Regions from separate parts of the Homo sapiens genome. Here all the other regions are reported to be linked to region 1. Evidence: microRNA targets listed by miRTarBase, many of them from high-throughput screens and not tested one by one. Region 1 holds a microRNA gene; each other region holds the end of a gene's coding sequence.
What was found. The annotated mature microRNA hsa-miR-4525 reads GGGGGGAUGUGCAUGCUGGUU and lies in region 1 at 4,532-4,552, shown strand. An mRNA with a match to its seed (bases 2 to 7 or 8) in the 3' UTR can be bound and repressed. Matches are read on the target gene's strand: a 7mer-m8 pairs with bases 2 to 8, a 7mer-A1 pairs with bases 2 to 7 and ends in A, and an 8mer does both.

Region 2: miRTarBase lists DPH2 as a target of hsa-miR-4525. Seed matches in the 3' UTR shown: 7mer-m8 at 896-902 and 7mer-A1 at 1,303-1,309.
Region 3: the mRNA of UBL5 is a reported target of hsa-miR-4525. Seed matches in the 3' UTR shown: 8mer at 969-976.
Region 4: miRTarBase lists COL1A2 as a target of hsa-miR-4525. Seed matches in the 3' UTR shown: 7mer-A1 at 1,418-1,424.

The regions. Positions count from the first base shown.
Region 1 is chr17:82,665,465-82,672,832 of GRCh38, reverse strand. It overlaps MIR4525 (microRNA 4525), which reads left to right and starts at 4,526; the gene lies at 4,526-4,600. The region is part of intron 1 of RAB40B (RAB40B, member RAS oncogene family); the gene reads left to right. RefSeq lists an enhancer at 3,872-4,051.
Region 2 is chr1:43,971,722-43,979,033 of GRCh38, forward strand. DPH2 (diphthamide biosynthesis 2) reads left to right here. Exons shown (of 6, transcript NM_001384.5): 4 at 1-349; 5 at 437-613; 6 at 694-1,648. The coding sequence ends at 818. It overlaps ATP6V0B (ATPase H+ transporting V0 subunit b), which reads left to right and starts at 3,239. Exons shown (of 8, transcript NM_004047.5): 1 at 3,239-3,386; 2 at 4,079-4,127; 3 at 4,369-4,452; 4 at 4,581-4,658; 5 at 4,869-4,938; 6 at 5,052-5,103; 7 at 5,305-5,495; 8 at 6,260-6,574. The coding sequence starts at 3,320. The coding sequence ends at 6,286. LOC124904167 (a long non-coding RNA gene) reads right to left here and starts at 3,144. Exons shown (of 2, transcript XR_007066053.1): 1 at 2,722-3,144; 2 at 1,644-2,166. RefSeq lists enhancers at 1-176, 1-1,161, 2,392-3,225, 2,808-2,927, 2,978-3,027 and 3 more and silencers at 3,278-3,327, 3,728-3,777.
Region 3 is chr19:9,829,085-9,836,452 of GRCh38, forward strand. UBL5 (ubiquitin like 5) reads left to right here. Exons shown (of 5, transcript NM_001048241.3): 5 at 881-1,031. The coding sequence ends at 924. It overlaps PIN1 (peptidylprolyl cis/trans isomerase, NIMA-interacting 1), which reads left to right and starts at 6,234. Exons shown (of 4, transcript NM_006221.4): 1 at 6,234-6,318. The coding sequence starts at 6,261. PIN1-DT (PIN1 divergent transcript) reads right to left here and starts at 5,931. Exons shown (of 2, transcript NR_183873.1): 1 at 5,780-5,931; 2 at 4,995-5,594. RefSeq lists silencers at 5,936-6,275, 6,306-6,525.
Region 4 is chr7:94,429,174-94,436,541 of GRCh38, forward strand. It overlaps COL1A2 (collagen type I alpha 2 chain), which reads left to right. Exons shown (of 52, transcript NM_000089.4): 51 at 15-257; 52 at 1,074-2,054. The coding sequence ends at 1,220. Among named protein-coding and RNA genes, the nearest start is that of COL1A2, 38 kb to the left of the region's middle. RefSeq lists a silencer at 7,003-7,052.

The sequences.
Region 1 (7,368 bases):
GATGGCGTCTACCTGGTGTCATTTTCTGTTGCTGTAACAGAATACCACAAACTGGGTAATTTATAAAGAAAATAAATGCATTTCTTACAGTTCTGGAGGCTGGGAAGTCCAAGGTTGAGGGGCTGCATCTGGGGAGGGCCTCCTGCTGCGTCATAACCTGGCAGAGGGCATCGCGCAAGCCCGTCAGCTCAGGTGTCTTCCTCTCCTTGTAAGGCCACCAGTACCATCATCAGGGCCCCACCCTGCTGACCCTACCTAATCCTAATTACTTGGCAAAGGCCCCACCTCCAATCAACATACAAACTGGAGGTTTACCTTTCTAACGTGAAGTTTAGCGGACACATTCAAACCATAGCACCTGGTTATGACAGTGTAGAATGGAATATCCATCTAGCTTAAAAAGCAACAAAACTGTACAGGGAGCGTGTGAGTGTGTGTGTTAGAGTTACAGGGGTGAGGTGTGTCAGTGGGTACAGGGAGCGTGTGAGTGTGTGTGTTAGAGTTACAGGGGTGGGGTGTGTCAGTACAGGGAGCGTGTGAGTTTGTGTGTTAGAGTTACGGGGTGGGGTGTGTCAGTGAGTACAGGGAGCGTGTGAGTGTGTGTGTTAGAGTTACAGGGGTGGGGTGTGTCAGTGAGTACAGGGAGCATGTGAGTGTGTGTTAGAGTTACAGGGGTGAGCTGTGTCAGTGGGTACAGGGAGCGTGTGAGTGTGTGTGTTAGAGTTACAGGGGTGGGGTGTGTCAGTGAGTACAGGGAGCATGTGTGTGTGTTAGAGTTACAGGGGTGGGGTGTGTCAGTGAGTACAGGGAGCGTGTGTGTGTGTTAGAGTTACAGGGGTGAGCTGTGTCAGTGGGTGAGTGTGTGTGTTAGAGTTACAGGGTGAGCTGTGTCAGTGGGTACAGGGAGCATGTGAGTGTGTGTTAGAGTTACAGGGGTGGGGTGTGTCAGTGGGTACAGGGTGTGTGAGTGTGTGTGTTTTAGAGTGACGGGGTGGGGTGTGTCAGTGAGTACAGGGTGTGAGTGTGTGTGTTAGAGTTACGGGGTGAGCTGTGTCAGTGGGTACAGGGAGCATGTGAGTGTGTGTTAGAGTTACAGGGGTGGGGTGTGTCAGTGGGTACAGGGTGTGTGAGTGTGTGTGTTTTAGAGTGACGGGGTGGGGTGTGTCAGTGAGTACAGGGTGTGAGTGTGTGTGTTAGAGTTACGGGGTGAGCTGTGTCAGTGGGTACAGGGAGCATGTGAGTGTGTGTTAGAGTTACAGGGGTGGGGTGTGTCAGTGAGTACAGGGAGCGTGTGAGTGTGTGTGTTAGAGTTACAGGGGTGGGGTGTGTCAGTGAGTACAGGGAGCATGTGAGTGTGTGTTAGAGTTACAGGGGTGGGGTGTGTCAGTTAGTACAGGGAGCGTGTGTGTGTTAGAGTTACAGGGTGAAGTGTGTCAGTGAGTACAGGATGTGTGTGAGAGTGTGTGTGTTAGAGTTACAGGGGTGAGGTGTGTCAGTACAGAGAGCGTGTGAGTGTGTTAGAGTTACGGGGTGAAGTGTGTCAGTGAGTACAGGATGTGTGACTGTGTGTGTTAGGGTTACAGGGTTGGGGTGTGTCAGTGAGTACAGGGAGCGTGTGAGTGTGTGTTAGAGTTACGGGGGTGGGGTGTGTCAGTGAGTACAGGATGTGTGTGACTGTGTGTGTTGGAGTTACAGGGGTGGGGTGTGTCAGTGACCGAGAGCTACATTTTCATCTTCTGTAGTGGAAAGTCAGTGGATGCCTAAAACTGAAATGTCAGGAAGTAGGAATGTAAGTATGTTCTTCATCAATCTGGAGATGCATAGCAAAAGAAGTTATTTTAAAGGATTAAAATGGGGAAGGGAGACAGGGGTTCGGGTGGGCCAGGGTCCAACATCGTGGATCGTGACAGCACTTCAGACTGTGAGCATCCATGACTCCATGAAAACAGAAACGAAAGATGGTTTTGAAACTCGTAGGGCGCTTAAAAAGACCATCAGGAAGCCGGGCGCGGTACCTCACACCTGTAATCCCAGCATTTTGGGAGGCCAAGGCGTGCAGATTACAAGGTCAGGAGTTGGAGACCAGCCTGGCCAATATGGTAAAACCCAGTCTCTACTAAAAATACAAAAATGAGCCGGGCGTGGTGGTGGGCGCCTATAATCCCAGCTACTCAGGAGGCTGAGACAGGAGAATCCCTTGAACCCGGGAGGCGGAGGTTACAATGAGCTGAGATCGCGCCACTGCACTCCAGCCTGGGCGACAGAGTAAGACTCCGTCTCAAAAAAAAAAAAAAAAAATCAGGAATTCTTTTACATTTATGAACACATTTTAAAGTTGTTTGGCCCTTGGCTGGGCGTGGTGGCTCATGCCTATAATCCTAGCACTTTGGGAGGCCAAGGCAGGTGGATTACCTGAGGTCAGGAGTTCGCAACCAACCTGGATAACATGGTAAAACCCCGTGTCTACTAAAAGTACACAAATTAGCTTGGCTTGCTGGCGTGTGCCTGTAATTCCAGCTACACGGGACGCTGAGGCACGAGAATTGCTTGAACCCGGTGGGCGGAGGTTGCAGTGAGCGAGATCACGTCACTGCACTCCAGGCTGGGTGAGAGAGCGAGACTCTGTCTCAAAAAAAAAAAAAAAAAAAAAAAAAGATTGTTGGCCCTCAAGGACAGGTCAAGAGGATACTTTCTAAGTCAGAGGACCCAGCCAAGCTCAGGCAGTGGATTAATCTCCGGAAAGACAAATATGAGCCTCTCAGCCCGTGGGGGTGAGTGTCCCTTCGTCTGGAGACAGACATATCAAAGCTGGAGTTATCTCCGCATTCGAAAATAGATTCCCAAGTGTATTCGTTCATTGCCTCGTGCCTGCCAAGGGAAAATAAATATTTCCAAAATTCTCTTTGAGGATTGCTATTATGGAGCAAATATGTATGTTCTTTTTTAATTTATTGTTTGTGTTTCACGCTCAGTGTGTTCATTGCTGACGGCTGCAGGACTTGGCACATGATGGTGCCTTCCCGAGAGCTTAGTAGGGTTTTAAAGGACTGTGAAGAGATTTTTGGTCGTCGCTCAAAGCGTAATTTCACAGGGCCTGAAGCTCCCGCGCTGGGGCTAGTAGAACTATCTAGTTGGAAGGCTCCAGAAAAGTGTTTTTGTCTCCTTTTACATTTTTTTTTAGAGACAGAGTCTCACTCTGTCACCCAGGCTGGAGTGCAGTGGCACGATCATAGTTGACTGCAGTCTCCAACTCCCGGGTTCAAGAGATCCTTCCACCTCAGCCTCCTGAGAAGCTGGGACGACAGGTGTGCACCACCATGATTGGCCAATTTTTTTATTTTTTATTTTTATTTTTTTGAGACAGAGTTTCGCTCTTGTTGCCCAGGCTGGAGTGAAATGGTGTGATCTCGGCTCACCACAACCTCCACCTCCCAGGTTCAAGCAATTCTCCTGCCTCAGCCTCCTGAGTAGCTGGGATTACAGGCACCCGCCACCACGCCCGGCTAATTTCGTATTTTTAGCAGAGACAAGGTTTCTCCATGTTGGTCAGGCTGCTCTCGAACTCCTGACCTCAGGTGATCCACCCCGCTCGGCCTCCCAAAGTGCTGGGATTACAGGCGTGAGCCACCGCGCCCAGGCCCTAATTTTTAAATTTTTTGTAGAGATGAGGTCTCACCATGTTGCCCAGGCTGGTTTCGAATTCCTGGGCTCAAGCGATCCTCTCACCTTAACCTCCCAAAGAACTGGGATTACAGGCGTGAGCCACCGTGCCTGGCTATTTTCCTTTCTGTAAAAGGACTGTTTCCTTGATACTCACTTGGTCACCTGGGAAAACCACAGCAGTGTGGTTTTGGTCTGACAGCAATGGAGGCTACGCCGCGTGCCCCACTGTGGTGAGGTCAAGCTCCTGGTGCTAAGATGCTGATGGTAGCAGTGGCCCATCTAGAGTGGCTGCTGCCAAGATGCCGGCTGCAGCGGAGGCATGGCTGGGCCTCTCGATCCACGGATCAGGCAGCAGCTCCGCCTTCCCTGCGTGCCGCGGCCCGCTGCCCTGGGGCAGCTCTAGACGCGGGCGTCTCTGTGCTCTTGGAGGCCTGGGAAGGCCACCCCTGCCCCCTGCAGGCTTAGAAGTGCCTGCTCCAAATGCCTGGCCTCTCCTCACTCCCCACGCCCGCTCCAGTCGTGGAGCACAGTTGGGGCTGAGCCCAGGTGCTGCTGCAGACCATCCGGGTGGGTCCACACTTGGGGCAGCACGGACACACCAGCCCTTGCCACCTCAGCCCCCTCGGGACTGGGCGCTGTTGAACATGGGAGGGAAGCTGAGGGAGGGCTGAGGGTGGCTCAGTGCTGGCCTGCAGGCGCCCCTTGGCATGAACAAGCTGGGTGCCATGAACAGCAGTGGGAGGCAGACAGACTTCTGGGTGGAAGGGGGCAGGTCCCTGGTGAAGCCACACCTTGAAGCTTCAAGGGGGCCTGGGGCCCGGGCTGCCAGTCCTGCAGACTGGAAGGAGGACTCGGTGCTTTTGTCAGAGGGGGGATGTGCATGCTGGTTGGGGTGGGCTGCCTGTGGACCAATCAGCGTGCACTTCCCCACCCTGAAGACCACAAAAACCCCAGACTCAGAGCAACGCGGACGTCGGGATGACCAGCTGCGGAGAGCTACCCTGTCTGCTGAGAGCTGAACACTTGTCAGGACGACCTGCCTGCAGAGAGAAGCCACCCACTGTGGGTCTCCCCTGAGCTGTTCTAACACTCAGTAAAGCTCCTCCTCGTCTCGCTCACCCTCCACTTGTCTGGGTACCTCATTCTTCCTGGATGCAGGACAATAATTCAGCAGCCACAGAGGTTTCCAGCCGGAAGAGCAACATCCCAAAGGCCCCATCAGTGCCCCGTCAGCGCCCATGCCAAGAAGAGAGAGACAGACGGTGCACTCAGCGTGCCTGCTGGGCTCGGTGGCAAACGTTTGGCCAGCTCAGGAAAGCCTCGTACTGGGTGGGTCAGGGGACTGCTTGGCCGCTCTGTCTGAGCCTCATCACGGGGCAGGTGGCGTCTGCAAAGCGGGTGCTTCGGGCGTTCTCAGTGCTGCTGTATCTTTTGTCCTCTGAATCACTCTCCTCTGACGGGGGGAGTTTGCTCTGGTGTTGCTTGGTCTAATCTACCTGGTGGCGTGATGGGCAGTCTCTGTGGACAGAGTGTGGAGTTTAGCAGGAGACAGAGGAGGATGCGGGAAGCCTGGACTCCATGTCTCTGGGGCTCTGGTGGCACCACAGAAAGAGCCTCTGGAGTCCAGGAAGGGGGCAGGGCCCGGAGGAGGAAGCAGAGGGCAGGGGACAGGCTGGACACAGCAGCTGTGGGAGGGAGGGGTGCTCGGGATCTCATGGAAGGCGCTGCACAGGTGTGCTCAGATCAGGCAGGTGTGCCATGCACGTGCTCATGGCTGCATCAGTGGAAAGTGGAGGACAGAGGCCCAGAGCTGCTGCAACGCCCAGGCCTGCCTGAAGATGTGGGCGACCAGCTGTCCAAGCCAAGTGGGAGGCCACCGGTGGCACCGCCACTGCACACCTCGCTCTGCCCGACAGGAGACCAGGAACTCGGCACACTGCCTCCTGGGATGCAGGGGGGCTTGTGGCCAAGTCCAAGGGTTCTAGACCCTTCGAGGGGGCAGAAGCTGCTTGAGAACCGTGGCCTCCGCAGCCTCGCATTTTTAGAGGAGCCTGTTTCTGGGCACTCACTGGCTACATCGTGGGCTTCTCTGGAAGGAGAGCTGCAGAGGCCGTGTGCTCCACGACGGTCTCCAGGGTGAGGTCTGGTGCGAGCCTCGGCGCTGCTTCTCCCCTCGGCCTCTCAGCGGCGCGCTTCCCTTTAGAATTCTGATTCCCTATTCAGCCATACTTGTCAAAGCACTCAACATCCGATCACAGCCGAGAGTGAGGCCAGGGCTTGTCTCTTGTAGGTTTAGTGCTTTGAGAGATACTGTCAAGTAAATCCTATACATGAAATAAATCAAGCAAATCCCACAAAGGCTGGTCATGTCTTGTTACTAAGCAGTTTGGGTTCCTGTGATTGTACGTGTCATTGTACCTGGTTTTAGGAAGGCAGTGCTCCTACCCGGCATTCTCCAGCCCCTTAACTCAAACCCTCTCTTTCCATGTTCTCAATGACAGACCTGGTGCTCATCCGGAAGCGCTAGAAGTGAACACAGGAGATGTTTCCTAAAGAAGCAGAACACTGGTGTCTGGGGGGTGATGGGGGCGGGGAAACATATTTTTCCCTTTAAAAATATTTATTGGCCGGGAGCAGCAGCTCATGCCTGTAATCCCAGCACTTTGGGAGGCCGAGACAAGTGGATCACCTGAAGTCAGGAGTTCAAGACCAGCCTGACTGATATGATGAAACCCCATCTCTACTAAAAATACAAAAATTAGCTGGACGTGGCGGTGTATGCCTGTAATTCCAGCTACTCAGGAGGCTGAGGCAGGAGAATCACTTGAACTCAGGAGGCCGAGGTTGCAGTGAGCCAAGATTGCACCACTGCACTCCAGCCTGGGCAACAAGAGCGAAATTCCATCTCAAAAAAAAAAAATGTATTGTGGCCAGGCATGGTGGTTCATGCCTGTAATCCCAGCACTTTGGGAGGCTGAAGTGGGAGGATCACTTGAGTCCAGGAGGTTGACCAGCCTGGGCAACACAGCAATGCCCTGTCAATTAGCCAGGTGCGGTGGCAGGTGTGGTGGCAGGTGCGGTGGCAGGTGTGGTGGCAGGTGCGGTGGCAGGTGCGGTGGCAGGTGTGGTGGCAGGTGCAGTGGTGTGCCTATGAGCCCAGGAGGTAGAGGCTGCAGTCAGCTGTGATTGTGCTACTGTACTAGAGCCTGGGCGAGGGGGAGACCCTGTCTCAAAAAAGATTTTTTTTAAGTGTAGTTTTTTTTTTTTTTTTTTTTTTTTGTTGTTGTTCTTGTTGTTTGTTTTGATACAGAGTCTCCCTCTGTCGCCCAGGCTGGAGCACAGTGGCACAATCTCAGTTCACTGCAACCTCCGCCTCCCGGGTTCAAGCAATTCTCCTGCCTCAGCCTCCCTACTAGCTAGGATTCCAGGAGCCCGCCACCACACCCGGCTAATTTTTGAATTTTTAGTAGAGATGGGGTTTCATCATATTGGTCAGGCTGGTCTTGAATTCCTGACCTCAAGTGATCCACCCGCCTCAGCCTCCCAAAGTGCTGGGATGACAGGCGTCAGCCACCGCATCCAGCCCTTAATTGTAGCTTTTTATTTTAGAAGAAGTGTTCCAGCATGGTGGCTTATGCCTGTAATGCCAGCACTTTGGGAGGCTGAGCCGGGCAGATTGTGTGAACTTAGGCGTTTGAGACCAGC
Region 2 (7,312 bases), not on the chromosome of region 1:
CTGGTAGAGAGGGCCAGAGATGCCCGCGTGGTAGGGCTGCTGGCAGGCACACTGGGTGTAGCCCAACACCGTGAGGCACTGGCCCACTTGCGGAACCTGACTCAGGCTGCTGGCAAGCGTAGCTATGTGTTGGCCCTGGGGCGGCCCACCCCTGCCAAGCTTGCCAACTTCCCTGAGGTGGATGTCTTTGTGCTATTAGCCTGTCCTCTGGGTGCTCTAGCCCCCCAGCTTTCTGGTAGCTTCTTCCAGCCTATACTGGCACCATGTGAGCTGGAAGCTGCCTGCAACCCTGCCTGGCCACCTCCAGGCCTGGCTCCCCACCTCACACATTATGCGGACTTATTGCCTGGTGAGTAGTGGGGGCATTGCCTAAGCTGGAAACCTGGGGCACGGAGTCAGGGGGTGAGTATGGATTTTCTTTCCTCCTCCCTTTCAGGCTCTCCCTTCCACGTGGCTCTCCCACCACCTGAGTCAGAGCTGTGGGAAACCCCAGACGTGTCACTCATTACTGGAGATCTCCGACCCCCACCTGCCTGGAAGTCATCAAATGATCATGGAAGCTTGGCTCTGACCCCACGGCCCCAGCTGGAGCTGGCTGAGAGCAGTCCTGCAGGTAAATGTACAAGTCTCCACTCCCAGCTGAGCTTTTTCTCCAGATGCAGCGCACTCAGACTGAGCCCCCTCCCTCTACAGCCTCATTCCTTAGTTCCCGGAGCTGGCAAGGGCTGGAGCCCCGCCTGGGTCAGACGCCAGTGACAGAAGCTGTGAGTGGAAGACGAGGGATTGCCATCGCCTATGAGGATGAGGGAAGCGGCTGATACCATGTGGGGCTGGAGACATAGATGGACTTATGAATGGCTGCTAGGACCTTTAGTGCTCCCTGCACCAACCTCCCATCCCCCTGCCAAGATCCTTGAAGGACCCTGGAAGGAGGGAGAGCAGGCAGCCCTTCACAGGATAGGATCCGTCTCTGTCCTGTCCTGGCACTGGCACAAGCTCAGCACATGCCCAGTAATGCGTGTTGTTTGGCTGATGGAATAAAGGGCTTAGGGACTTCCCTGAGGCCTCTGGACCCATCTGTCTTCCTGAGGGCAGCCCAGGACCTTTGGCCAATCCCAGTTCCCAGGCTGCAGTTGAGGGTCTGTCCTTGTCAAAAGGCAGGTGCTAGACAGTCTAGACCAGGGTTTCTCAAACTCGTACTTGACATTTGGGGCCAGATAATTCTTTGTTGTGGGGCTGTCTGGTGTATGGTAGGGTGCTCAGCAGCATCCCTGGCCTCTGCCCACTAGACATCAGAAGCACTCCCCCAGTTGTGACAACCAAAAATATCTCCAGACCTTGGCAAATGTTATCTGTGGGGGAAAATTGCCCTCAATTGAGAACCACTGGTCTAGCTAGACCTGCACTGTCCAGTACAGTAGCCACTAAATACATGTGGCTAAACTTAAATTTAAGTTAATTAAGATTAAAAGCTCAGTTTCTCAGTCACATTAGTCATTCAAGTGTTCAGACAGCCACATGAGGGGACAGTGCAGCTACAGGATATGCCATCATGGCAGAAAGTTCTATTGGTTGGACAGCGTTGGTCTATACTGACTCTTATTTCTCAGGGAGATCACAGCAACCTAAATAAACCAGATACCTTTTCTCTTTGTGTTTCTTTTTAATTCATGAAATACTGCAGGTCCTGCACTGGTCCTGGGATGTAGATGTTAACTGTATTTAACCAGATTCCTTTCCAGTGTACCTGGAAAGAGAGTTAAATACGCAGTCAGTACACAGTGAAACAGCTCTATCTGGGAGGAGGGAAGCCCCAGGGACAGCTGGATCCCACAGGAGATACCTGACAAGGACTAAGAGGAGGCTTCCCAGAGGGCATAACACCTATGCTGGATCTTTTGGAGGAAAAAATAATTGTCAGGAGAAAAGGAGTGAAAAAGACCTTTGGGCTTAAACATGAACCAACATGGCGGATGCTTCAAGCAAGTGGGGTTGCTGGGCCCTAAAGGTGGAGAGGGGTGAAATGAAAAGACTCGCCTCTTCTTCCCCACATTTGTTGAGAATCTGGTCACAGTGGCATTGTCGAGGGTATTGAAGGTGAACAAAGGAGATGTGGTCCCTGCCCTCAGGGAATGCCTAGTCTAATGGTGGAGGCAGAGCTGTAAGCTAACAAGGTAACCCAGACAAAGTGGGCATCAGTCATGTGTTCTACAAATATGTACTGAGGACACACTCTGTGCCAGGTACTGGAAATACAGCAGTGAGCGACACAAAAGCCATGGTGCTTCCACTCTTCCAGGGGAGTTGGACAAATAAAATACTTAGTATGCCAAATGGTGATCAGTAAGTACCGTGAGAAATGTAAAGCTGGGAAGCAGAGGAGCGTTTAAGTGGGGTGGAATATTAAACAGAATGGTCAGAGAAGGCCTTTTCAAGAAGGTGAGCAAAAACTGAAAGGAAGTTACAGGATGAGCCGCATGTATAGTTAGGAGAAGCAGAGAGAGCAAGTGCAAGGGCAGTGAGGTCGCGGTATGGTTGGCACGTTCAAAGAAATAGCAAGGAGGGCAGTGCAGCCAGAGGAGGGAGTTAGTGGGGGAATATTAGAAGGTGAAGTCAGCTGAGGGGCGTGGGGAGCCTAGCAGGCTATTGTGAGAACTTTGGCTTTTCTCCTGAATGAAATGGGAGCCATCAGGGCATTTCGACAGGGTAGTGACATCTTACTGAAGCTTAATAAGCATCACCAGGACATCGCGGGAGCCCAGCAAACGCGCTTCCCTGCCACTGGGTTAGGGAAGGCTTGCCGGAAGGACGATTTCGGAGGACAGCAGGTGTTAGCCAGGCAGCGGAGCGAGCGCCAACAGGCGCACTGGGGCGGAGAGACGCCGTGAGCAAGGTGAGGCAGAGGGCACGCGCGGCGCCACCCGCCACAGGCTAGGACGCACGGCTGCCAGAGAGGACGCCTTAGGGGCCCGCGAGCAGGCTCGGGAATAAAACAGGGCTGGCAGGGCGAGGTGGAGAGACTCGAGAAGGACCGGCCAGATGTCGAAGTTCCTAGAGAGGAGGGCGCCCAAGCCTCCGCCGAGACGCGTGACTACAACTACCACAATCCCCAGCGCCTGCGGTTCCAGCGTCGCCTTGCTCTAGACGGGCGGCGGCGCTGCGCGGGGAACCGGCGTGGGGTCACGTGGTACCGGCGCATCACGTGGGCGAGTTAGGTGACGCTGCGGGGCGGGCGGACAGACTGCGGGACGGACGGTGGACGCTGGGACGCGTTTGTAGCTCCGGCCCCGCCGTTCCGACCCCCGCCGCCGTCGCCGCCATGACGGGGCTAGCACTGCTCTACTCCGGGGTCTTCGTGGCCTTCTGGGCCTGCGCGCTGGCCGTGGGTGAGGCCGGGTCCTGGCGGGCGGGAGCAGCATCGCGGCCGAGCTGGCCGGGTCGGAACTCGGCGGGGAAGTGGCCTGCGGGGAATACTGGCCCCCCGCGCGCTCTGCACCCGAGGCTCTGGGGACTTGCGCCTGCGAGGGCCTCTGACTCCGACAAAGGAGACCCGGATTTCCAGCTGCTTGAGGAGGGGTGCGGGCGGGTAGGGGCCGCGAGGGCAGCACTCCCCCGTCCTGCCACTATCGCTGTCTCCCCTCGCTCCCACGTCTCACTGCTGTCCCCCCTTTCTTGCTCCTGACCGGCCCGCTCGGTCACAAGCCGGCTGCTCCGGTTCCTCTTTTCCCAGTCGCTTTGCCCTCCCCCACCCACAGCTTGTTGGGTAAACAGCGGAACGGACTGGGCCGGCGGGATCTGGCTGGAGCGCTTGCTCCCTCGGTCCCGCCTCGGATTCGGGCTTGCGGGTGGCGACCCTGCCTGCGCAGGTGCTTGGTCTGGGAGGTGGTTTTAGCGAGGGAATGGCAGAAAATGGAGGCCTAAGCAGAGGAATCTGTCTACACAGCTGTACTGTCACCTGGGGGCAGCCTGAGGACGCCCCTTCAGGGAGGTGGCCCTTCAGCTCGGCAGCTACTTTAGGTTGAAGAACTTCTCTCTACCGAGCAGCCCGTAACCCCCTTTTTCTCCCTCACTGCTGCAGGAGTCTGCTACACCATTTTTGATTTGGGCTTCCGCTTTGATGTGGCATGGTAAGGGAGGGCAGGGGGAGGATTCCCCTTGAAGCTTCTTCCCTGCAGCCTCTCTTCTTTTCTCTGGTCTGAGTCCCTCCCCCACACCACTGCCTGCCTGGGACATGGACCTTTGGGAAATACGCGGTCAGTTGTTGCCTGTAGAACTGGTGGTGGGGTTGAAGGGGGTTTGAGGGGTTAAGATTTTGTGCTCCGCTTCCCTGCTAGAGCTGAACTGCTTTCTTCTCTGCTTCCACAACAGGTTCCTGACGGAGACTTCGCCCTTCATGTGGTCCAACCTGGGCATTGGCCTAGCTATCTCCCTGTCTGTGGTTGGGGCAGCCTGGTGAGTATTGGGGTGGTGGGACTGGGGGCAGGGGCTGAGTCATGGCAGGTGGTGTCACTGGGGTCTTAGGCATGCTGAGGGCAGTGACAGCTTGGGCTCTGCTCATCAGTTTTTTATCCTTCCACCAGGGGCATCTATATTACCGGCTCCTCCATCATTGGTGGAGGAGTGAAGGCCCCCAGGATCAAGACCAAGAACCTGGTCAGGTAAGTGTCAGGGTCCTTGGACTTTTGTCAGAACCAGCTGTGTTGGCGCTGCCTGTGTGTTTGATCTGACATACTGTTTCTGACAAGCCACCTTGTGGGATGGGATGTTATAGGGGAAAGATTGCTGGGGACTTACTGGGCAGGAAGGACGGTTTCTTTCTCATTTCTTTCTCCTTTCCACTCCTTACCCCTAATCTCTACCACTACCAGCATCATCTTCTGTGAGGCTGTGGCCATCTACGGCATCATCATGGCAATTGTCATTAGCAACATGGCTGAGGTATGGAAGGCCAGGGTGGTGGCGGGAATCCATTCCAGTGTGTTCTACACATTCCTTAGAGATTGGATGGGGTGCATCAGGATGGTTTCTGATTACTTTTCTTCTTCCCTCAGCCTTTCAGTGCCACAGACCCCAAGGCCATCGGCCATCGGAACTACCATGCAGGTGGGTGGATGGGCGTATGAATGCAAAATGCTGGGACTTCATGCCTGCTTCCACTCTCCCCCATCCCAGCTTGGGCCATCATTTTGATATTCTCTCACCTACTTTTTCTGCTTTGCAGAGTGGGGATGGTGATTGGCCCCATTAGCCCATATCTCCCCCATTCCTGGCTTAGCCTCACTGCACCCCTCTCTATCCTCCCAGGCTACTCCATGTTTGGGGCTGGCCTCACCGTAGGCCTGTCTAACCTCTTCTGTGGAGTCTGCGTGGGCATCGTGGGCAGTGGGGCTGCCCTGGCCGATGCTCAGAACCCCAGCCTCTTTGTAAAGATTCTCATCGTGGAGATCTTTGGCAGCGCCATTGGCCTCTTTGGGGTCATCGTCGCAATTCTTCAGGTGATGAATCCCCTTGGGAAGCCTCTGTGTCCTTGTCCCCAACCTAGCCTTACCCTCCTTCTGGAGAAGCTGAAGTGCTCTCCTTCTCTACCTATAACTATAGATTCCCCCAAACAGCTTCCACCTCCTCATTTCCATCTTCTGGTTTTCTCCTACAGGGGCTCTCTATTTTTGTCTCTGATTTGGTGTCACTGACAACAGCCCTGTTCTTTTTCCCCCCTTTCTAATGCGTTGTATCTGTATAGCACTTAGTCCTCCCTCTTTCTGTTCTCTCATTTTATCTGCCATGCTTTTCATGTCTCCAGTCTGTATTTGTGATCTAGACTAGAATGGAATTTTGTCTGTCTATATCAGTCTGTCATGGTGTGTTTGACTGTCTCTCGGAGCTATGTGTATCTCCCTCTCACATGCCTGTCAGTAGGACACCATTGTCTAAATTGTGTGTGTCTAGTCTGTCTGACAGTGTGTGAGTTTGTGACTAAGGATCAGCCTGAGGGTCTGAGTGTGACTGTGGGTGCTTGACTGAGTTGATTCTTAGTGACTAGCTTTATCCATATGCCACTTCTCTCCGTCTGTCCCACAGCGTAACTCTGTGGTTGTCTGTCCCTGTCTGCCTTGTCTGTCACAGTGTGTCCATCCTGGTTAGTCATATATCTCTTGTGGTCTGTCCATCCAACCATGTGCTAGATGTCATCTTCTATCATTTGTCACTGCCTTACCTATTCCTCTGTCCCTGCCTGATTTCTCCTGTTCTTTTTTTGCAGACCTCCAGAGTGAAGATGGGTGACTAGATGATATGTGTGGGTGGGGCCGTGCCTCACTTTTATTTATTGCTGGTTTTCCTGGGACAGCTGGAGCTGTGTCCCTTAGCCTTTCAGAGGCTTGGTGTTCAGGGCCCTCCCTGCACTCCCCTCTTGCTGCGTGTTGATTTGGAGGCACTGCAGTCCAGGCCGAGTCCTCAGTGCGGGGAGCAGGCTGCTGCTGCTGACTCTGTGCAGCTGCGCACCTGTGTCCCCCACCTCCACCCTCAACCCATCTTCCTAGTGTTTGTGAAATAAACTTGGTATTTGTCTGGGTCAGTGCAGCTTCTGTTGCCCTCTTGCGTCACCGTTCACAGAGGAAGGGTAAAGAGGCCTGTACGCCTCAGCCTCATGCCAATCCCTTGTCAGCTTTCTGACTGCACACTTCTGATCTGCACAGAGCTTGCTCCTAGGTGGGGAGGCACGGGTGCTGGGTGGACTCTAACCCCCAAACAGACTTGTTTGGGGATGAGGGAGTGTGCAGATAGGGGCCCCTGGGTGTGTTTGTGCCTGTAGTCCTTCTAGGCCCGTTTGCTCAGGGCTCTGACTGACCACCATGCCCGAATTGTCTGACAGCATCTACTTACCTGGTTGTACAGTCGGGCACCATCATCTCCGTCCTTGTGAGGCCTGGAGCCTAGGCAGTGGTCTCTGCCTCCAGTGATGGTCCTGTCCTTCTAGCAGCAGCCCCTCCCAGAAACCTCTACTCTGATCCTTGTTCCCAGGGCCCAGGGCAGCTCCTCCCACCCCATCCAATCTCGTTTTCTCCTTCCCTGACCCTGTTTCCTGTTACCCCAGAAGCCCCAGCCACCTCCAGCCCACGCCTTTAAGGGTCCTGCCCCCTCTCTGCTGGCCGACCTTGAATCTTGGTCCAATTAAAGAGTTGACAAATCCCTAGCCCCGCAGCCTGAGTCCGCCCAACCTCCAGGTCCCCTTCCTGGGGAGTTCGCGCTCCAATGCAATCCCCACTCCCCGCTAAGGGACTCCACGGTCTGCACCCGCTCGCCGGTCCGACCT
Region 3 (7,368 bases), not on the chromosome of region 1:
TTACTGACCTCCACCTGAGTGCTGGACAGTAGGTCAGGGTGGGGTGAGACTCAGGCATATCTATTGTGCAAAAGGAGCAGAAACTTTTTACAATTTTTATTTTATTTATTTATTTTTTTGAGACAGTCTGGCTCTGTCGCCCAGGCTGGAGTGCAGTGGCACGATCTTGACCCACTGCAACCTCCACCTCCCGGGTTCAAGCAATTCTGCCTCAGCTTCCCAAGTAGCTGGGATTACAGGTGTGTGCCACCACTCCCTGCTAGTTTTTGTATTTTTAGTAGAGATGAGGTTCCACCATGTATGCCAGGCTAGTCTCAAACTCCTGGCCTCAAGTGATCCTCCCGCCTCGGCCTCCCAAAGTGCTGGGATTATAGCCGTGAGCCACTGTGCCTGGCCTAGAAGGAACAGAAACTTTTTTTTTTTTTTTTGAGATGGAGTTTTGCTCTTGTTGCCCAGGCTGGAGTGCAGTGGTACAATCTTGGCTCACTGCAGCCTCTACCTCCCAGGTTTAAGCGATTTTCCTGTCTCAGCCTTCCAAGTAGCTGGGATTACAGGTGCCCACCACCACACCCAGCTAACTTTTTGTATTTTTAGTAGAGACAGGGTTTCATCGTGTTGGCCAGGCTGGTCTCAAACTCCTGACGTCAAGTGAGCCACCTGCTTCGTCCTCTCAAAGTGCTGGGATTACAGGTGTGAGCCACTGCACCCAGCCAGAAATTCTTTTGTAAAGTTTTGGTTCTCTCCAAATAAAAATGGCCTGGTCCAAAATGGGCTTCCTTAGCCCTGGGCTGAGACCTCAGGCCACCTGACCCGGCTGTGAATGGATGAGAGGGGTGGGGACGGAAGTCAGAGTCAGGATTCCTTAACACCTTTCCTTCAGATGAAATCCACGATGGGATGAACCTGGAGCTTTATTATCAATAGATGAGAATCCTCATCTTCCTGCCCCGCTTTCCTCTCCCATCCTCATCCCCCACACTGGGATAGATGCTTGTTTGTAAAAACTCACCTTAATAAAGACTTAGATGTTGCTTTGTTGTTGTCTCTGTATGACAGCTGTCTAGTGATGGGTGGATCAGTCGCTGTTTGGTCATCACTGCACCATCAGCATGCAGCTGCTAAAATAAGAGCTCTGATCAACTGGATCCATGAGGGCAGAGTAGACCAGCAGGCTGGGAGTCTGTGTGGGAGCCCAGAGAGAGCTCTGGGGTTTGCTGTGGGTGTCTGAAGGTCAAGAGACTCTGGGATTATTGTCACCCTAATAAACCAAAGAACCTCCGGCTAATGACAGTAGATGTAATTGTTAGGAATTCAGATTCTGAAATCACACAGACCATGTGTGGAATGTCAGCTCTGCCACCAAGCAGCTGAGTGACACTAGGCAAAATTTTTTAACCTCTGTAAGCCTTTACTTCCTTATCCACTGGAAATAATTGCGTTTACTTCATGTCTGCTTTCAATCGGCATATTGTGAGGAGGTATAAATGAGTTTAAAGCATGTTTAAACATCCACAGTTCCTGGCATTTTTTTTTTTTCTTTTTTTGAGACAGGATCTTGCTCTGTCACCCAGGCTGGAATGCAGTGGTATGTTCATAGCCCACTGCAGCCCTGAACTGGACTCAACACAGTCCTCCTGCATCAGCCTCCCAAGTAGCTGGGCAGTGTGTACCACCACGCCAGCTAATTTTAAAATTATTATTATTATTTATTTTATTTGAGACAGAGTCTCGCTCTGTCACCCAGGCTGGAGTGCAGTGGCACGATCTCAGCTCACTGCAACCTCTGCCTCCTGGGTTCAAGCAATTCTCCTGCCTCACCTGAGGCAGGAGACTGGGACTACAGGCGTGCCCCATGACACCAGTTAATTTTTGTATTTTTAGTAGAGATGGGGTTTCACCATGTTGGCCAGGCTGGTCTCAAACTGCTGACCTCAAGTGGTCCACCCTCCTCGGCCTCCCAAAGTGCTGGGATTACAGGCGTGAGCCACCGCGTCTGGCATTTTGAAATTTTTTGTACAGACAGGGTCTCCCCTATGTTGCCCAAAATAGTCTTGAACTCCTGACCTCAGGTGATCCTCCAGCCTTGGCCTCCCAAAGTACTGAGATTATAGGCACAAGCCATCATGCCTGGCCCTAGCACTTCTTTTCAAGACAAAACGTGATAGTAGACAGTGAGGCAGTGTGGCACTATAAGTGTGGCTACATGATCCCAGCCTCAAGAGTCAGACCGACTAGATTTGAATTTTGATTGATCCTTAGCAGTGGGATTTCAGCCTCTGCGACCCTCAGTTTCATCCTCTAAAAATGAGCACTACAGTGGCACCCACATCTCAATGAGACCACGCAATTAGAATAGCAGGATGCCTGGCACATAATGTTATTTGCTGTATTCTTCCTCTAGGTGTGAGTAGACAGGAGACCAACTGTCCCTCTGTTCCCCTGGCCACAGTTCTTTGTGTCAACCTTGCTCCTGTCCTGTTTTATTTTTTAAATTAAAAAAATTTTTTTTTTGAGATGGAGTTTCACACTTGTTGCCCAGGCTGGAGTGCAATGGCATGATCTCAGCTCACTGTAAACCCCGCCTCCTGGGTTCATGTGATTTTTTTGCCTCAGCCTCCTGAGTAGCTGGAATTACAGGTGCATGCCACCACACCCAGCTAATTTTTTTTAGTAGAGACAGGGTTTCACCATGTTACCCATGATGGTCTTGATTTCCTGACTTCATGATCCGTTCACCTCAGCTTCCCAAATTGCTGGGATTACAGGTGTCAGCCACTGCGCCCGGCCCTGAATTTCTTATTTCTTATACCACTCCTCCCACCAGTGGTGGGCATTAATACATTTGAGTGACTCTAGAAACTTTCTGGAATAACCTAGAGTTTTTATCATACGGGGATAATTATATGTCCCGTAATATTTATATGACATTCCATAGTTTGCTTTTCTGTGCTTTTTTTTAATTATTATTTTTTATTATTATTTTTTGAGATGGAGTTTTGCTCTTTTTGCCCAGGCTAGAGTGCAATGGTGCAATCTCGGCTCACTGCAACCTCTGCCTCCCGGGTTCAAGCGATTCTCCTGCCTCAGCCTCCCAAGTAGCTGGGACTACAGGCACGAGCCACCACACCTGGCTAATTTTTTGTATTTCCAGCAGAGACAAGGTTTCACCATGTTGGCCAGGCTGGTCTCAAACACCTGAGCTCAAGTGATCCGCCCGCCTCAGCCTCCCAAGGTGCTGGGATTATAGGTGTGAGCCGTTGGGCCAGCCATGATTTAGCAATTTTGAAACTACTTTTGTGTGTGTGGGTGTGGGCACATGGGCCCATGTAATACACACAAACAGGGTTGAACAAATAAGTAAACTTGTAGATAATGAGAGCTGGGTGTCTCACTGTGGAGAAGGAAGTTACAAATAAAACAGGAGATGGGAATGCTTAAAATGAACCTTGTAGGACTGGATTTGGAGGCATCAGTCTGAATTCATGGTTTTCGTTTAACAGATATATTGATACATATAGATGTGTGTATACATATGTATATTTCCTTGCTCTATCCACTTAGAGGGACCAGAAACAGTGACACTCCAGGAACAGTGAGCACCCATCCTGGAACATAAAAACACTAGTGGGAAAACAGGATTGGGGGGAATTTGTGGTTTAGTTAATAGTATTATATTGATATTGGTTTCTTAGTGTTGATAATTATATTATAGCAGGGTTTCTAAGCTTTGGCATTGTTGACTTTTTTGGGTTGGATTTTTTTTTTTTTTTTTTTTTTTTGAGACAGGCTGGAGTGCAGTGGCACGATCTTGGCTCACTGAAAGCTCCACTCCAGGGGTTCAAGCAATTCTCCGCCTCAGCCTCCCGAGTAGCTGGGATTACATGCGCCCGCCACCACACCTAATTTTCGTATTTTTAGTAGAGATGGGTTTTCACCATCTTGGCCAGGCTGGTCTTGAACTCCTGACCTCTTGATCCACCCACCTTGGCCTCCCAAAGTGGTGGGATTACAGGCGTGAGCCACCGCACCCAGCCTTTTATTTTTATTTATTTATTTATTTTTTGAGACAGAGTCTCCCTCTGTCACCCAGGCTAGAGTGCTGTGGCAAGATTATGGCTAATTGCAGCCTCTTAACTCCTAGACTCAAGAGATCCTCCCACCTCAGCCTCCCAAGTAGCTGGGATTACAGGCACGTGCCACCACACCCAGTGAATTATTTTTGTAGAGATAGGGTCTTGCCATGTTGCCCAGGCTGGTCCCCAACTCTGGGCTCAAGCGATCCTCCTGCCTTGGGCTCCCAAAGCCCTGGATTACAGGTGTGAGCCACCACACTCAGCCCTTGGATTGGATAATTCTTTTGGTGGGGGCTGTGCCTTGAAGGATGTTAGCAGCATCCTTGGCATCTAATACTAAATGCCAGTAGCCAGTAGTATCTCCTGTTCCAAAATGTCTGAAGGTGTTGTAACAACCAAAAATGTATCAAGATGTTGCCAAATGTCCCTTGGGAAACAAAATCGCTACTGGTTGAGAATTCTGTTCTATTGTTTATTTAAGACGCTAATATTAGGGAAGTTTGGGTGAAGGGTACATGAAAACCCTACTGTTTTTGTAACTGCCCATGTCTAAAATTATCTTTATAAAAAGTATCTTTTTAATATTATGCTAATACTTGTAAAAAATGTTCTATTAAAACTTAAACTTTTTTTGTTTTTTGAGATGGAGTCTCGCTCTGTCACCTACGCTGGAGTGCAGTGGTGCGATCTCGGCTCACTGCAACCTCCGCCTTCCAGGTTCAAGTAATTCTCCTGTCTCAACCACCCGAGTAGCTGGAATTAAAGGTGCCCACTATCACGCCTGGCTAATTTTTGTATTTTTAGTAAAGACAGGGTTTCACCATGTTGGCCAGGCTGGTCTCGAACTCCTGACTTCAGGTTATCCACCCACCTCGGCCTTCCAAAGTGCTGGGATTACAGGTGTGAGCCACCGAGCCTGGCTTGAGTGCTTTATGTGGATTAATTTATTTAATGTTCACATCAAACAGAAGGATGTAATTGCTTATCCCCGCTTTGCAGATTGGGAAACCGAAGTACAGAGTAACGTTAAGTAATCAGTTCAAGGTCGCATAGCAAGTGTCAGTCCCAGGCTTTAAACCCAAGTCTGGCTCCAGACTTCTCTTAGCCTTCTACTGCATCCTGCGTCTAATTTGTTGTGGGCAGGTTTCCCTATGAGTTCACTTCACTGAGCCTCATTCTTTTTAACGGTCACATAGGGTTCTATGCTAGGTGAACTGTAGTTGCACCCTTTGCTGTCAGTGTCTTCAACTCCCATATCTACCCACAGTTCCCCAACTCTGGGTCCCCAAATACCTCCCCTGTGTCCCACGGGCTCTGCAGACTCTATTTTAAGTTGGCTAAAACTGAGCCCATCTCCTCCCACCTGCACCTCCTCCGTGTTCTTATATGAATGTCAATGTCGGCACCCACTGGTCACCCAGGATGGAGGAAGGAGCCAGACTGCGAGGGAATAAAGGAAGTAAGCAGGTTCCAAAGGACGTGGAAGGCCTTTGGGTCCAGAGCCTAGGGAAAAGTTGAGCCCTGCAAAAAATAAAAGAGGCTGGGTTAGCTTTGGACATCTGTGGGAAACAGGTGGGAAGAGGGAGGATGGAGGAGCCAAATTTAAGCATCGGGTACTTAGGTGCTCATCTCCAAGGCAACTGCATTGCTATGGCAACAGCAGAGGCAGCACCGCCCCGCCCAAGTACCTCCTGGACCGCCGTTACCTCTGCACCAGCCAGACTCTTCCGCATGGGAGGGCTGGGGGCTTGCGGACCTCCGGGAACAGCTCAGGCAGGCGGGAGTTGCTGCGGCATTAGCCAATCCATAAGCTCTATCCCGCCTGGGTGGGCTCTGCGGCGACGCGCGCCAAGAAGGGGTCGGGAGTTTTTTGGCGCTCGCTAAAGGGCGTTGAGAAGGGCGGGCCCGCGTCGCTTCGGACCACTCAGGAGCCGAGGAGAGCGAGTGGGCGGGGCCAGGCTGAGGCTGGCCGGGGGCGGGGCGCAGGGATAACGTGGGAGGGTCCGCCCAGCCTTTCTTCTACCCAATAGAAGGCCAGAAAGCCAATCCGGACCGTTAGGGAGCCCAATGGGCGTCGCCGCCAGGCCCCGTTGCAGAGCGCGTCTAGCCAATAGGCAGCGGCGGCGGGCGGGCGCGGGCGACAGGCGGCGCAGCTGAGGCGGAGCAGGCGCTGCGGCAGGAGGGAAGATGGCGGACGAGGAGAAGCTGCCGCCCGGCTGGGAGAAGCGCATGAGCCGCAGCTCAGGTGCCGCGGGGGTCGGGGCTGGGGCGGGACTGCGCGGGCCCGCGTAAGCAGGGCTCGAGCTCGCCCCTTGGGCGCGGCGGCAGCGCTGCCTCCCTCCCATGGGGTCCTGGCTCTTCCGCGTCGTCCCCGGGGTAACGGCCCCGGCCCGCCCTGTTGTGGGGACTGCGAGCCTCAGGAGCCGCCGGGAAGCCTGAGGAAGCTGAGGCAGGGGGCTGGGCGGGTGAGGGTCCGGGGAGTCCGGGGCGATGGCCCTGGCCCTGCCGGCCCGGCTGATACCTCTCGGCCTAATGCACCTGACACCCCGGGGGACGTCTCTGCACCTTGCTGGGCCCGGGGGCACCCCTGGGAGGGAGACACCCCAGTACCCTGCAAAGGGCGTAGGGTGTTGCCCGGCCTCGGGTCCACAACCTACCCCTGCTAACACCCCTACTGTGTACACCTAATGCTGAGTCTGCGACATCGCCCGTGACATTCTGCCAGACGATGGCCCCTGTGCTTAGGCCCGATTTAAGGGTTAGCCACAATGATAATATTGCCAGTAACAGGGCATGTTTTTCTCTGTGTCAAGCGCTTTAAGTTCTCTCTGAATTGCCGCAACTCTGGGAGCCAGGTAGTTATTACTTCCACCTTACCAGCAAGGAAACTGAGGTCAGAAAACTGAAGGAACTCGTCCAAGATCATTCATTTCAGGGGCCGGGGGTTGGATTAGGACCTAGGCAGTTTGCCTACAAATCCCCCTCCCCGTGTCACTGCAAACTCCTGAGGAGCAGGCCCAGCATCTGTGGGCAGGTCCCGAGTCACTCTGCTGCCTCTAGAGCCCATAGCAATCGCATTTGCAATAATAATTCTCCTTGGTTGAGTGCCAGGTTCTGGTGAACTGTTTGGATACATGGACTCTCCTCATTAACCCCATGAGGTTTGATCTCCTTATTCTCTATTCCCCATTTTTCAGATGAGAAAACTGAGGTGCAGGGAGATTAGAGCCCATTGCCAAGGTTTTAGAGTGAGTCAGTAGCTCAGCTGCATTTGCACCTGGAACCCGCGCTCTCG
Region 4 (7,368 bases), not on the chromosome of region 1:
CCTATTTTCTGTAGTTTGAATATAATGTAGAAGGAGTGACTTCCAAGGAAATGGCTACCCAACTTGCCTTCATGCGCCTGCTGGCCAACTATGCCTCTCAGAACATCACCTACCACTGCAAGAACAGCATTGCATACATGGATGAGGAGACTGGCAACCTGAAAAAGGCTGTCATTCTACAGGGCTCTAATGATGTTGAACTTGTTGCTGAGGGCAACAGCAGGTTCACTTACACTGTTCTTGTAGATGGCTGCTCTGTAAGTAATAGTGAAATATGGGAATAGCTTTGGGAAGTGGGATGGAGGGGGTTCTAACTTAGACTGCCCCCAAGGGGGGGTCTAAAGGGGGGTTAAAAGAACAGAAGAATGAGAGAACTAACTTATTTCATAAGTAAATTCAGTTTTTGTATGTATTTTATATTTATTTATTTATACGTATTAATTTCGTACTTAAATTCAGATGATAAATTCAGAGTATTCTTATCAGATAGTGCCTTCTGAAATGCTGAAATGTATACTATGTCCATGCATTGTTTTTTCTTTAGCATGTTTTTTAAATGGTAATGTGTGCCCAGAACTTAAAATTTCTTGAGACTTCAGTGGCCTAAACTATAATTTATAGTTATGTGTATTTTATTTTACTTATTAGTATGGCCTACATTTAACTTTTAATGCTTTTTCTACAATATGCTATAAATATAAGAAAAATTAAAATTCACTAACAGCAAGACTACATACCCACCCAGGTCCCGCTCCCAAAGACACACATAGAGGGACATACACACAACAATCCTAAAAATGACTTTGTAGAGATAGGTCACTTGGAATGTGTGTTGAAATGTTGTTGGTTTTTTTGGTTTGTTTGTTTGTTTGTTTTTTGTTAGACTGATAGGGAGCCCCTCCCACTAAAGACACCCTTGATACTGTTATTTCAAGGATGAACTTATTTATCTGGGACAGACATCTTCAGAATGACACATGCCAAACAGTGGTTCTTATTAAATCAAAGGTTCAGATATTATCAGATTCAGAAATAGTGATGCTTTGTGTATCTATTTTCTTCTCTTTAAACAGAAAAAGACAAATGAATGGGGAAAGACAATCATTGAATACAAAACAAATAAGCCATCACGCCTGCCCTTCCTTGATATTGCACCTTTGGACATCGGTGGTGCTGACCAGGAATTCTTTGTGGACATTGGCCCAGTCTGTTTCAAATAAATGAACTCAATCTAAATTAAAAAAGAAAGAAATTTGAAAAAACTTTCTCTTTGCCATTTCTTCTTCTTCTTTTTTAACTGAAAGCTGAATCCTTCCATTTCTTCTGCACATCTACTTGCTTAAATTGTGGGCAAAAGAGAAAAAGAAGGATTGATCAGAGCATTGTGCAATACAGTTTCATTAACTCCTTCCCCCGCTCCCCCAAAAATTTGAATTTTTTTTTCAACACTCTTACACCTGTTATGGAAAATGTCAACCTTTGTAAGAAAACCAAAATAAAAATTGAAAAATAAAAACCATAAACATTTGCACCACTTGTGGCTTTTGAATATCTTCCACAGAGGGAAGTTTAAAACCCAAACTTCCAAAGGTTTAAACTACCTCAAAACACTTTCCCATGAGTGTGATCCACATTGTTAGGTGCTGACCTAGACAGAGATGAACTGAGGTCCTTGTTTTGTTTTGTTCATAATACAAAGGTGCTAATTAATAGTATTTCAGATACTTGAAGAATGTTGATGGTGCTAGAAGAATTTGAGAAGAAATACTCCTGTATTGAGTTGTATCGTGTGGTGTATTTTTTAAAAAATTTGATTTAGCATTCATATTTTCCATCTTATTCCCAATTAAAAGTATGCAGATTATTTGCCCAAATCTTCTTCAGATTCAGCATTTGTTCTTTGCCAGTCTCATTTTCATCTTCTTCCATGGTTCCACAGAAGCTTTGTTTCTTGGGCAAGCAGAAAAATTAAATTGTACCTATTTTGTATATGTGAGATGTTTAAATAAATTGTGAAAAAAATGAAATAAAGCATGTTTGGTTTTCCAAAAGAACATATTGAGTAAAATTCCTTGCTTCAATGCTCTTTGCAATATAAATATGCATCTCTACCAGCCATTAGACCAAGTGCCTCTGATTAGATAGAAATTATGCAAAAAGGGCAGTTTGGTGTGGTAGAAAGAGCAGAGAACGAGGACCCAGGAGAGCTGAACTCCAGTTCTGGCTCTGTTCCTTGTGGCTGAGTGACCTTGAAACTCTGAGCCTCTGCATTTCAGTTTCCATAGCTATAATATGAAAAAATTCCTTTTCAGCACTATTAAGCATTTGCCCTACTCAAAATATGTAATATTTAAGCAACATGGCATTTTTGACCTAATTTTACTATAACCAAAGGTCTATAGAAACTTGGTTTATTATATATTAAGCACTTTATAACAGTGGCTGAAAGTTGGTCTATGAGCAATTAATACTATTAACTAAAACAGTTTCAAATATTCAGTAAAAATGCCATACACTTAAATCTGAGGCAACTGAATACAATGCCTGTTAAGAGGTAATGTGTGTGCTGTCAATCAGGATAGACAGTTGTGGATAATAGTACCACGAACACCTACCTGCCAAATCAAGTTCATTTTCCTCCCCTGCACCTTTCAATAACATCTTTAATACACTTAAACATAGTAATGTGTCAAGTAAAATGTTAAGATTCATTTAGAGCTTATTTCCTGTTGCAGAACATAATTGTGATTGTAATATTTGCCTTGTGTTATAAGTCATCTCAAGATTCAATTAGTTTTAAAGGCAAAAGACTGAACATGGTAAAAATGTAATATTAACCTTAAAAAGTTAGCAAGGTCTCCTAATCAAAATGCAGATTCCTGGTCCTCATCTGCCAAATTCAGATTTAGTAAGAAATTGCTATTCTTACGCATCCTGTGAAATTCAGATGTGCACCAATTGAAGGACCACCTGATGAGGTTACTGCCATAGTCCTTTGTAGCTCTAATATTCTGTGTCTGACAAGAAGGAATATATATATCTGACCAAACCATATATAAAGATAACTCCTGGGATCCGAATGCTGGTACTCTCTATAAATTAGTAATTAAAATGACCATGCAAACTTACATGATAAAACAGAAATCTCTGGATCAAATATGAACTATACCCTCAGACTTATAGCAAAAAAAAATAAAACGCATTTATTGAGTACCTGCTAGAGGCAAAAGCCATGCTAAATAATAATAATGACCTTTGTCAAACTGAATCTGAATTAGCAGATTTCCTAAGCCAATGCTCACTTAATAATCACTTAATCATCATCAGTGTGAGACAACTGAAAATAGTCAAATAAATAATGGTACACCTAATGGATTACAATGAGGAAACAAATTATGGTATATCCAGTAAACAATGAGGAAACAAATTACAGTATATCTAATAGATAACGATAGGATGAATAGTGAAATAAATTTTGGTATCCCAATAACATTTATAAGGATGATTTAACAAAAGAAAAACTTCTTAGAATAGAATTTTCAATCTTGAAAATCTAATATTCAAGAACACTGTCATTATAATTAGATATTTTAAATATACATGTAAAAAAATGCTGAGAGTAGGCACATTTGTATAGAAGTTTAAGGATGATTTTTAGGCCTAAAATTTTCAAATTTGCAACAATGTAGCTATATTACATTATTATTTACAACAAATTTACTCTTAAAATATTATGAAAGAAGCAGTCAAAAGTGAAAAGAATCTGGTTCAGGAGTAGCCATCTCCAGGGAAGGAGTGGTCAACCTCCCACCCACCTGTTTCCTGAAGAGAAGGACAAGCCTGGCCTAAGGGTCATCATCCACCATGGACCAGCCATCCTGAGAGAAGCTTGGGAGGGTGTACAAAGCTCTACCAGGCCACAGCATCTTCAGGGAGCTCAGGGAGCTTATAGTGCGGTTCCAGAGGCAGAATAAAATAATGTGTGAACAGAATTTTAAATTACATATCCTCTGAGGATAACAGAAGACACTATTAATTAATTAGAGGGAGTCTCGGGAAATTAACCTTTGTCTCACACAGTAACTGATATTTGGATTGAACTGGCCTCTCTTGATAGAGATCTCATTTCACCTTCAAGCTCTCTGGCTCAATCCTTCTTCTCTGGAAGTCACATATTAAAACAGCCTGGTACTTACCAAGCCAGGAGGTCCACTGTGAGTGTTCCCAGGGCCTAGACTCAAATGTGGACATAGAGCAATAGACTGAAGACTTGGCCCTTCCATGACGAGCCCACTCTTTAGAGGCTGATCACCAGGCCCAAAGCATACTCCTCACAACATTTCTTGACCCTTGGTGGAGTGAAGGTCAGCCACCTCTAACTTGTAGGAGTGTGAAAGGGAAGAAAATTGCACATGAAAGAGAGAAGAAGCAGGTAGCCAAGATCTAGGGAGGGGACATTAATCAAGTCTAGTAAAAAGGGTCATTTAAAATTCTAAAATCAATACAGCTAATGCATTGGCAAAGAGCAAAGATACCTGAGCAATGCTGAATACATTTATTATCTTTAATGCCAAAAGACTTTTTTATGCTATTCCACTTAATATCACTGTAAAGGAAGTTCAGAAATTGGATTATATATAAGAAAAGTTGGAAATGTCATTCTGGGTCAGAACAAAAATCCATCTAGATGAGTACTTTGCCTTTGACAGTGGCACCAGGGGAAATTTGGGAGAAAGAGCAGTTGGCACTTCTTGTGAAGCCAGCCTCAGAACTCCCATTTAATAACCCATTGTAAATCTTTTTTGTACATAGATGTATCTAAACCCTTCCAGAGTCCTCTATCTATTTTGAAATATGTTGGTATTACAGTACCAACAGGAGAGAGCTAGTGCTGAATTGTTAGCTCAGCTTCCTAACCCTCTGATCAAGTAGCTAAAATATGTTTTCTATCCTTGTGCCTGGATCAGCCAGGGATTCGACAACTCCATATCCTTAGGGAGCACTAGTAAGTCCAACAATGGGGCCATAGACAACCCATAATGAGCGACTTATCCCTGCTCTTCAGTGAAATGAGCACATAATTTGTGGTCAGCAGCCAAGGCTATGAGTATCAGCTCTGCCATTGACTAGCCCAGGGCCCTTGGGAAAGTCTCTTAAGTTTTTTGAGAATTTAGTTAACATGCCTGCTTTAGTTAACATGCCTGCTCTTAGAGATTGCCATTACCACACATATCATCTCACAGAACTGCTGGGGGTACCAAAACAGGCATGTGTGAAAGTGCTGAGTAAAGTATGCACAATAGACTTGTCATCACTAGGTCCAAAATTTCCTGGCCACTGGTGGTAGCCTCTTGATTTATTTTCTGATCACTGGCCCTCTAATTTAGGAAGAAGAGAGTGTAGAATTTACACTTAATTAGCACCACTCTCTAAAGTGGTAGTGTATCAATTTTGAGTTATGCCTCCTTATCAGTAAAAATTTGAGTTCTTACAACAAATTTACTTACTTATATATAAATGTTATGTATATATTATGGTGCTAGTATATGCAATATAAAACCTCTACAGAAAAAAAATCTGTAAAGACAGAAAATAAATACACATAGAAGGGTCCATAGTCCAGTGGATCATTCTGCACGCCCCTGGGATGCATGCACCACCCCCTTCCATTTTAGAGAGTATTGCACTAAACAAGGATGGTCTTCAGGGGAGGAGGAGCATCAATGAACTCCTGAAATCACATGTTAAATACACTTTGTGGGTATGTGCATTTTTCTTGGAAGAAAAGTCCACAAATTTCATCTGATATTCCTAGGGGTCCATGTCCCAATTAGACTTTATAAGCCACTGCACAAAAGAAGTATTATCCACATCGCTAAACCCTGGACTTTTCTGAACTATGACTTTCTCTTTTTTTTTTTTTTTTTTTTTTTTTTTTTGATGAAGTTATACTCTTGTTGCACAGGCTGGAGTGCAGTGGTGCGATCTTGGATCACTACAGCTTGAACTCCCAGGTTCAACCTACTCTACTACCTCATCCTCCCTAGTAGCTGGGATTACAGGCATGCACCACCATGCCCAGCTAATCTGATATTTTTAGTAGAGACAGGTTGTGCCACGTTGGTCAGGCTGGTCTCGAACTCCTGACCTCAGGTAATCCGCCCTTCTCGGCCTCCCAAAGTGCTGGGATTACAGGTGTGAGCCACTGCACCCGGCTTGAACTATGACTTTCATATCTCATCTTAGGTGTCTTACTCAGAACATGCTGCTTCTCCTACCCTAAGACCTGAGAGAACCAACCAGCACCAGTCCAAATGTAAATAATGGTTTGTCTTTTATTCTTCCACTTTTCTGGTATGAGTCCTCTGTCCTACGCTTTAACTAGGCTTGACATATACCTTATGACCTGTACTTTGTAACATAAAAATACACCAATCTTCAGAATCTTTTTAAAGAAGAGCAAACAAACTCAGTAATGGGGGACAATTAATTGAGCTATGCCTTTTAGGTAAAATGTGCTTGTATTAGTTTTTTTAATTTTGAAAAGTGATAGAGTTTAACCTAAAAATTATTGCAATTTCTGGCACTGTAAAATGTCTTGAGGACAATACTGTAATTGTTTTCCAGGGATCCTCAAATCACCTAATAGAACCAAATCTTTTCATCTGATTGCTCCAAAGCAAACCTATTATTCTGAGCTCCAGACATAGGATTAATTCTGGCCAAAATTAACAATCTTACTGGAATCTAGAAAGGTATCCTTAAAATTGAGATTCACCGTAAATTTAAAGACATTTTTAAGCAAAGCACACAATGCATTTTTACTATCAAAGTGAACATATTTTTGTAGTGTAGTATTGCTCTTGGTGTCCAATGGCTTAATTAACAACAATAATGATGAAATAAAACTTAAACAACATCTTTAAAATGGAATCTATTAATGCTAGGCAGAGTAAGAACACCTAGTGCCAAGTGGATGGACCTTTCTATCGCTACAATATGTCAATTCGAGTTCAATGCTCCCCCTGCTGGCTGGATAACAGAACACCTCAGTCCTTTAACAGTGCCGCGGGCATACCATTGGAGAATGAAAATTCCAATTTAAGGGGAGAAAATAGAACAGCTTCCTGTGCTTATATCCTGTTAACTCCAGACACACAGCCTTCTCCTCAACTTCCACAGGGGTCTACCTTCATGTTCTCAGTACTCCCTATTTTACTTTCCCTCTCTGATCTATCTTTAATATTTCTCCCATGGAGCCAATAAGTGGAAGCCACAAAGAAACAAACATAATCTCAAAGAATGAACTTTTGGATGAGTAGAGCTGTCCGATGCTACAAATATTGCCCCGAGATAAAGTGAGCACCT